2 linked regions of the Homo sapiens genome follow. The protein of the gene in region 1 interacts with the protein of each later gene in a pairwise test. Each region holds a gene or a part of one and is shown in the gene's direction. Other genes may lie near its edges.

The links. Proteins that work in one complex are often made in the same cells at the same time.
Region 2: the proteins of KDM5B (region 1) and CTCF interact in binary tests that used the Homo sapiens proteins (3 or more experiments, as listed by UniProt).

What each region holds. Positions count from the first base shown.
Region 1 is NC_000001.11:202,734,282-202,739,634, reverse strand, and holds part of KDM5B (lysine-specific demethylase 5B), read left to right. Parts: intron 1-3,242; coding exon 3,243-3,422; intron 3,423-4,047; coding exon 4,048-4,206; intron 4,207-5,353. UniProt on the Homo sapiens protein: Histone demethylase that demethylates 'Lys-4' of histone H3, thereby playing a central role in histone code. Does not demethylate histone H3 'Lys-9' or H3 'Lys-27'. Demethylates trimethylated, dimethylated and monomethylated H3 'Lys-4'.
Region 2 is NC_000016.10:67,635,526-67,639,677, forward strand, and holds the end of CTCF (transcriptional repressor CTCF), read left to right. Parts: intron 1-1,164; coding exon 1,165-1,326; intron 1,327-2,162; coding exon 2,163-2,347; 3' UTR 2,348-3,652; downstream 3,653-4,152.

The sequences.
Region 1 (5,353 bases):
ACACTGCCGAAGGCCGCAGGGTCCTCTGCCTAGGAAAACCAGAGACCTTTGTTCACTTGTTTATCTGCTGACGTTCCCTCCACTATTGTCCTATGACCCTGCCAACTCCCCCTCTGCGAGAAACACCCAAGAATGATCAATAAAAAATAAATAAATAAATAAAAATAAAAATAAAAAAGGCAAAAAAAAAAAAGAGCAATATTGGAAAGTTGTGAAGAATAATACGTTGGATCTTGCTGCACAGTTTCAGTATTTTAGGGGTTGACCAGAAGACTAATTCTATTCATACTTATTTGGATGTACTTACCAGCTATTATCCTGACCAGTTGTCTCAAATATTTAAAGCTTAGACAGTGTCACCAACTTTTTCTGGGAGCTGGGGAGTCTTTCATAACAAACTTGAGTACTTGACTGCAGATTGAAGCAAAAGAGCTAACAATGAAGTAGTGAGAGAAAGTAGTTTTCTACTCTTTGATAAGTATGATTACCTCTTGTTGGCTTGTCCACAACTTTGAAGTTCAGACAATCAGTAATAGCAAATTCAGTGAATCTAGTTATATGACTAAATGCCCAGCTAAGCCCCAAGGCCCAGAATTTTCATGAAGTAGTGACTTAAAAGTACCCTCCCAACCCTACAAAAGAAATAAAACCTACCCAGTTCCAAAGTAATTATCCAAAGTATCCAAAGTCATTTCCACCAAGTATTTGTGGTTTTATGCTAGATGTTATACTTATTGACCTGTATATAAGTTTAAAAAAAGAATTAAATTCACTTGTAGCATTGTTAAGGTACAAAAAGAATTCATTCTTTAATATGATTTTCCCAGTTTTCAGACGACTGGCTGAATGACTTAATTTGAAACGTGTTTGATGGGGGATGTCTTCCCTTATCTCTTATCATCATAAACCAATAGGTGTTACTGACCTATTGAGAAAAAAAAAAGTCTCAAGTTCTATTTTGTTGAAGTCCTCAAATTCTAGAAATAAAATACGATCTGGCTTTCTGAATATTTGTGTAATTTTAAGTGGTGTTAATTGGCTAATTGCTAACAAGAAATACCAAACAGGACAATTCTAGACAAATGTTTGCATCTGTTCTTGTTAATAGGGAAAAGAAGATATATTGTTTGAGGAGATTACATAATTAAGGACTGACTCCAGCAAGCCAAAAACAAAAACAAAAGTATTTACTATGGACATAAACTTTGTTAATGAGAGTTTTAGATGCAGGCACTTGTCAATGATAGTTGGTATTGTAGTAATTAGTTTTAGTTATGGTCCTCCTTTTTACTCCATGATTGCTAGCAGCCAGAAGGTGAAGTCATGGCAGTAAGGAGAGGCTGACATATAAAATCAGAAAGCAAGGGCATGCTTCTGGATGAGTTTATTTCCTTCATATTTTATATGTATATGCTACTTACTATGTTTGTAACAGTGCCATTAAGGGCAAAAGGCAAGTTTTTTGCTTCATTCCTGAAAAAGTAGCCTACCTTTTTTTTGCATCATATATTTAAGGACTGCTACACATGACTAACAACAAGGAACTACTTCCTATTTAGTGGATTATTTAAATGTTATGCAGTATTCTGCTTTACACATAGGAAGCACTCGGATTTCTAAATTAAATATCATAGGAATAGCATTAATTTATGAGTCACATTCTTAAGTGTCCATCAGAACATTTATGCCCTAACAGATTTAATTCTGTAAGAATAAATATCAAAGGCAGCAAAATATCAACCTACCCAGTCTTCCCTAGTTGTCCCAAAAATGTCCCTTATGGCTGTTTGTCTAACCCAGAAACACATGTTGCACCTAATTGTCATCTCTTTAAGTTTCTTTTAATCTTGTAGCGTTTTCCTCCCCACCCCACTTTTTCTCATGTCACTGACTAGACAGTTATCCCATGGTATGCTCCACCTTCTGGATTTGTTTGATTGTTTCTTTGTGGAGTGTTCTGTTCTCTGTATTTCCTATAAATTGGAAGTTAGTTTTAAAGCCCTGGTGCATCCAAGTTAAACATTTTTTTAATATAATGCATTAAAATGTCAGGTAATACTGTATATTCTATATTGCATCACAACAGGAGATATATCTGGATGACCTACCATTAGTGATGCTAAGTTTTACATTGTATTGGAGCAACACCAATGCATTTCATCCTCCATAACCTTAATGCTTTTACTCTCCTAGTTTGGCTATCTCTTTCTAAAAATACAGTTCCCAGACCAGCAGTATTAGCATCGGCAACAGCAGCTTTACCTGGGAACTTGTTAGAAGTGCAAATTTATGGACCTTCCTCTGACCCACTGAATTAGAATATTTGGGGATAGGACTAAGGAAACTGTGTTTAAACAAGCCTTCCAGATGATTCTTATACATGGTAAAGTTAGAGAACCACTGGGCTGTCTCAACTTATATTTTAGTTTCCTGAATAATTTATATTGAGTTGCTTTAATTAATCATTGGTGAGTGGATTGGGGTAAAATATTGTTTTGTTGCCTTTTATTTGTGTAATTCAGTATGAAAGTCTTGAGTTACTACAAACCTTCATTTCTGTTGAAATTTTTTTCAAACTGTTAATAGGAACCAATGAGATGAATGAATTTAGAAGGGTATAAATAGAACAAAGGGACCACAGTATATGCCATGTTCACATTTGTATCCTTAGAGCCTAGCACAAACTAGGTTCTCTAGGCCCAGCACAGTGGCTCACTGTAATCCCAGCACTTTGGGAGGCCAAGGTGGGAGGATTGCTTGAGGCCAGGAGTTTGAGACCAGCCTGGCCAACATGGTGAAACACCATCTCTACTAAAAATATAAAAATTAGTTGGGCGTGGTGATGGGTGCCTGTAATCCCAGCTACCCGGGAGGCTGAGGCAGGAGAATTGCTTGAACCCAGGAGGTAGAGGTTGCAGTGAGCTGAGATTGCACCACTGCATTGCAGCCCAGGCAAGAGTGATACTCCGTCTTAAAAAAAGAAAAAAAAAACAACACTACCACCACCACCACCAACAAAAGACCCAAACTAGGTTCTCTGTTTGTGTAATGAAGGAACAAATGTCACTTCTACCCCCAATATCATTGGTCAGCTGGCAGGTTAGTCAGCGTTTGTGAATTTAGCATGTTGAGATCATGGAGTAATCTGAAGTACTCAATGGACCAATCTGAATTAAGCTTTTCCTGTTTTTCATAGAAGTGTTCTTTTCTCTAAACTGCTGTAATTTTTCTTGACTTATTAGGCTGGAGGACGTGTGCCAGTGTTAGACACACTCATAGAACTTGTTACACGAGGCCGATCTATCCCCGTACATCTGAATTCTTTGCCAAGACTGGAAACCCTAGTAGCTGAGGTTCAGGCTTGGAAAGAATGTGCTGTTAATACATTCTTGACTGAGAATTCTCCATATTCTCTCTTAGAGGTAAGTTTACAACCAGCTCATCTGCAAGACCTTAGATCTCCTAGTTTGGTAAAACATGCAGTTCATCACATACAAAGATGACATCACAGATTAATCTATATTCTGTGAGTTGTTCTTCCCGTAAAGCCAGGGAGACTCTTCTAATTTTCTGGTGAAGCAACCTTTAAATGTTTTCTTGGTTGATTTAGCATAACAGTATCTAAAGAAGAAAATTTTTTCCTATTGGGTGAAATTCCTCTGTGTTGAAATTGGACTCTTAAACTTGGCCGTGCTTCGCCCACCTGAATTTAGTAAGCCTGATAAATGATCTCCCCCATTTTTTAAAAGTGCTTTAACTGCACTTTTTGTATTTTCTGTAAACTTGCTTGTGCATCATGACTGGGATCAACCAGTATATATCACATTTTTAACTTGTTACTTAATTGAATAAGGAATCAGTCTATCTTTTATGAGTCTTCCTCCTCCTTTTGTAAAGGAGAGCCTCAGGGTTGCATGTTCCAAAGAAAATCTTCAATACTAAGAAATGCACATCCTTTTTACTGCTTAGGCTTTTATTTTGGGACTTCCTACATAATGCTTTATCTGAAATTTATTTTACCATTGGTTGTGCCTTGTCCCACATTAGGTGCTGTGTCCTCGATGTGATATTGGCCTTTTGGGATTGAAAAGGAAGCAGAGAAAGTTAAAGGAGCCCTTGCCAAATGGAAAGAAAAAAAGCACCAAATTAGAGAGTCTGAGTGACCTGGAGAGAGCTTTAACTGAAAGCAAGGAGACTGCTTCAGCTGTATGTAGGGTTTTTTTCTTCTCCTTTCTATGTTATTGGGAAGAATAATTTCTAACCCTTTCTGTTTTATAGGAATTTGGAGAAGGCAAGTAGAGTAACTTGAAAGCGTTCAGTTTTACTAAAAAGACTTTTTGAAAATTGTCAAGTGTTAAGAGTTTTGAATGGTAAGATGCATAGAGGTGGGAAAGATTCAGGGTAGGCTTCCCAGTCTCAGGGTCTTGCAGGCACAGAAACAGTCTTGTTTAGTGCCTGTGGGTTGATCCAGGAATGCTAACTAAAGATATTGAGACTAATATTAATAGATGTATGAAAATGCAATGCTAATTTATTAGTTTATAGTTAAGAAGTACATTTAAAAGTTTACTGGATACTTTGATACTCATCTGGAATACCTTACATCTCTGACCTGCATTTAGTAAATACTGTTGATTCAAAGATGATAGTTTAAAGAAGATGAGGCAATGTATAACTAATGTTACACATTAAGCACCTTATCGGGATAAAAAAGGGATAGCTATGTGATGCTTTTAATGGCACAAAGCATTGCCCGTTCTAGAGTGGGAATGTATACCTGCTACTGGGACTAGATTGAATGGGTTCATCTGTGGATCTGGACACCTTCTCCCATTGATTTCTTTGTAGCTGCCAGACCTCTTGTGATAGACATGGGTTGCCTTGATTTATTTAGGTATTTTGACACAGATGTTCTTAGTGTATATTCGTATATTCAGTCAGGTTCTAGACAGAATTCTGCCATCAGAGGTCCTCCATTCCATCTGTGGTTTGTTTTTATAAAGACTAACTGAAAGTTACAGTCCCCCTCTCCTGAGGTGTATATATGTTGGTTTGAAACTTTATATGCAGTATCTTTTGTAGATTTTAGTCTGTCCATCTGTCTGTAGACCCCTGGTTTTAAGAATTCTCCCTACGTATTATCTGTTAATTTATGGTAGAACTCAAAGGTTAGTCATTTGCTTTCCATCTCTAAGCTGTCAGAAGTTACCTTGTTATCATATAACCCACACATATTACCTGTGTATTATATTTACAAAAGAAGTGGATTTTTTTTTTTTTTTAATATACCCAAAGGTCTTTACCTGATTTGCTTTTAGGCTTTTTTTTTTTTTTTTTAATAGAGATAATGGAG
Region 2 (4,152 bases), on another chromosome or scaffold:
TGTGGCCCAGGCTGGAGTGCAGTGGCGGATCTCAGCTCACCGCAACCTCCGCCTCCCAGGTTCAAGTGATTCTTCTGCCTCAGCCTCCCGAGTAGCTGGGATTACAGGTATGCGCCACCACGCCCAGCTAATTTTATATTTTTAGTAGAGTCAGGGTTTCTCCATGTTGGACAGGCTGGTCTCAAACTCCCAACCTCAGGTGATACACCCACCTCAGCCTCCCAAAGTACTGGGATTACAGGTGTGAGCCACCACGCCCAGCTGCCAGTTTCTTATTTCTTGTAGAGATAAGGTCTCACTATGTTACCCAAGCTGGTCTTGAACTCCTGAACATGAGTGATCCTCCAACCTCAGCCTCCCAACGTGCTGGGATTACAAGTGTGAACCACCGTGCCCAGCCTTAAATTGATTTTTCTTAATAATTGGCTGAGCATGCTGGCTCACACCTGTAATCCCAGCACTTTGGGAGGCCGAAGCAGGCAGATTGCCTGAGGTCAGGAGTTTGAGACCAGCCTGGCCAACATGGCGAAACCCCATCTCTACAAAAAATACAAAGATTATCTGGATTGGCTGGGCACGTTGGCTCATGCCTGTAATCCCAGCACATTGGGAGGCCGAGGCAGGTGGATCACCTGAGGTCAGGAATTCAAGACCAGCCTGACCAATATGGTGAAACCCCATCTCTACTAAAAATACAAAAATCAGCCAGGTGTGGTGGCGTATGCCTGTAGTCACAGCTACTCAGGAGGCTGAGACAGGAGAATTAAACCCAGGTTGCAGAGGTTGCAGTGAGCTGAGATCGTGCCGCTGCATTCCAGCCTGGGCGACAGAGTGAGACTCTGTCTCAAAAAAAAAAAAAGAAGGAAAAAAAAATTACCTGGGCATGGTGGTGCGTGCCTGTAGTCCCGGCCACTCAGGAGGCTGAGCCACGAGAATTGCTTGAATCTGGGAGGCAGAGATTGCAGTGAGCCGAGATCGCGCCACTGCACTCCAGCCTGGGCAATAGAGTGAGACTGTCTCAAAAAAAAAAAAAGAAAGAAAGTGTATATATATATATATATATATTTATAAAACAAGACTTCAAATAATATATAATTGTTTTCTTTCATCTTCCACCACCCTTCTCCTTGCCCCACCACCTGTGCTTCCTGATTTCATGAAAAGAAAATGCTGAACCAGATCTGGACGACAATGAGGATGAGGAGGAGCCTGCCGTAGAAATTGAACCTGAGCCAGAGCCTCAGCCTGTGACCCCAGCCCCACCACCCGCCAAGAAGCGGAGAGGACGACCCCCTGGCAGAACCAACCAGCCCAAACAGAACCAGCGTAAGTTGTTCATCTCTGCTCTGGAGGCTGGCGTCTTCTCCGAGCATGTGGGGGAGCCAGATGGGTCCTTGTTCTTTGGGGATGTGGGAACTAAGCCATGAGAACAAGTTAAGGGCATGTCGAGAACAAACTCTCAGGAAATGGCTTTTTAGGAGTTTTTACTGAGGAACATCTGAGGAAGTCTTTAGAGGCCTGTTACATTTCAAGAAGAAGTCCAGAGTAGAAGGGTACTTGTGTTCTGCAAGATGGGTACTGTTAATGTGGGCGGGTTTTGAAAAACAACCAAAGTCACAGTCAGCTGGCAGAATGGATGCGGTAATGAATATAAAAGAGCCAAATCGTAAAGGTTGGAGAGGGAAAGCAGTTTCTGCACTGAGATTGCCCCTTCTAAGAAACTCAGGGTCAGGCGGTGGCTCATGCCTGTGATCCCAGCACTTTGGGGGGCCAAGGCGGGAGGATCACCTGAGGTCAGTAGTTCCATACCAGCCTGGTCAACATGGTGAAACCCCATCTCTGCTAAAAATACAAAAATTAGCCAGGCGTAGGGGTGGGCACCTGTAGTCCCATCTACTCAGGAGGCTGAGGCAGGAGAATTGCTTTAACCCGGGGGGCAGAGGTTGCAGTGAGCTGAGATCATGCCCGTGCACTCCAGCCTGGTCATAGAGCAAGACTCCGTCTCAAAAAATAAAATAAAAAATAAATTGACTGTCTCTGGACCGCTATCTAATAAGGCTGTCCTGCATTGCTGACATCCCGTTCGCTGTCAGTCTAAAAGACCCTTGTGATTCTTGGGGCTTTAATGGACCATTTGTTCTGTCTGTGCTCTTCTTTGCCAGCAACAGCTATCATTCAGGTTGAAGACCAGAATACAGGTGCAATTGAGAACATTATAGTTGAAGTAAAAAAAGAGCCAGATGCTGAGCCCGCAGAGGGAGAGGAAGAGGAGGCCCAGCCAGCTGCCACAGATGCCCCCAACGGAGACCTCACGCCCGAGATGATCCTCAGCATGATGGACCGGTGATGGCGGAGCCTTGTGCGTCGCCAGGACTTCTCTGGGCTGTGTTTAAACGGCCCGCATCTTAATTTTTCTCCCTTCTTTCTTTTTTTGGCTTTGGGAAAAGCATCATTTTACCAAACATACCGAGAACGAAAACTTCAAGGATGATGTTAGAAAAAAATGTGATTTAACTAGAACTTGCTGTCTGATGTTAGCAAATCATGGAATGTTCTGAGTCCCTGAGGGTTTACTGTGAAGTGCTGAGGACAGTGTTGACAACTAACTCGTTTTCCTAGATGGAAACGGAGACATTGACCCCTCCCTCCATGTGGTAAACCACTCCAGAATGGCCACCAGGCTTCCCAGAGTTCTATGGTCTTCTTCCCAAGAGAGTTTTTAATTGTAAATGCATACTTGGGAAGGACTTAGAGTTTTAAACTGTTTTTTGCTTTTGCTTTTCCCTGACTCCCTTTGCTTGGAGTCAGCTGCACACCAGTAGTATGGCATGCTACGATCAGGTTCTGTCCTGAAAGCTTTGCCTCTTTCTTGGCAAAGTTTCTGGTATGGTCAAGCTTGTAAATAACTTTTTTTACATTTTAATCTTTTCCATTAATTAAGAGGTTGAAAAGAAGTGCAGTGTAAGAAAACCCAGCATTTTAATTACTTGCAAATTAAGTTACCACAGACTCTGTAGTGTGTAAATGTTGACAAGGAATTGGATCACAATCATGTAGCAGAATGGCACCCAGACCACTGCCCACCAGTGACGGACATGCACGTGGCAGATCATGATTTCCAGCCCACGGAGCCAGCATTTGAACCTTGTATAATTAACTTTCAGTTATGATTTCCCATCGACATTTTCTTTGCCCTGTTTGTAGCTGATTGTTGTGTTTTATAAATCTTCTGTTAAGGCAGAAGGGTGATTATGAGTGGTTCACAGCAGCCCTTATAAGCTGGGCCAGAAAATTTCACTAGGTCAGTAATTTAAACCTTGGATCTTCAAAAAATAAAATAATGTGAAGCAAAACCAACTAAAAAGTGATTCTTGCACATGAACTGTCACATGTTTAAAAATGTGTTTTTTAGAGAGCCTCAGTCTTACTGATTTCAAACACTTTTTTCTTCTGTGTATTGCTTTTAAGAGAGCCATCAGTTAGCTATCAGACTCTAGGTTGATGCATTTTGTACTTAGCTGTACTGTGTGATATTTTTCATTATTTTAGGACGCCAACATGAGACCTGTAATAAAATATGTAATGGGGTTGAAAGCTGGGGAGGAGGATCTACTGCTGTACAGCTAATAAATCATAACGGATTAACAAGTGCTCCAAAGACTCCATCTTGCGTGATTCCTGCCTGCTTGAGGGAGGCTGGGGGGCTGCATACATGGTTCCAGGCTGTGCAGGCTGCTGCCTTTCACAGGCAACCTCTGTTCCCTGGGATGGTACTTTCTCTAGCAGATGGGACGATATGATCTTGGCGGGTGACTGGATATTGAGCGCATCCTGCTGTAACTGTTTTTTTGTTTTGTTTTGTTTTGTTTTGTTTTGTTTGAGATGGAGTCTCGCTCTGTTGCCCAGGCTGGAGTGCAGTGGCGCAATCTCAGCTCACTGCAACCTCCACCTCCCAGGTTCACGCCATTCTCCTGCCTCAACCTCCCGAGTAGCTGGGACTACAGGCGCCTGCCACCATGCCTGGCCAATTTTTTGTATTTTTAGTAGAGACTGGGTTTCACTGTGTTAGCCAGGATGGTCTCGATCTCCTGACCTTGTAATCCGCCTGCCTAGGCCTCCCAAAGTGCTGGGATTACAGGCGTGAGCCACCAC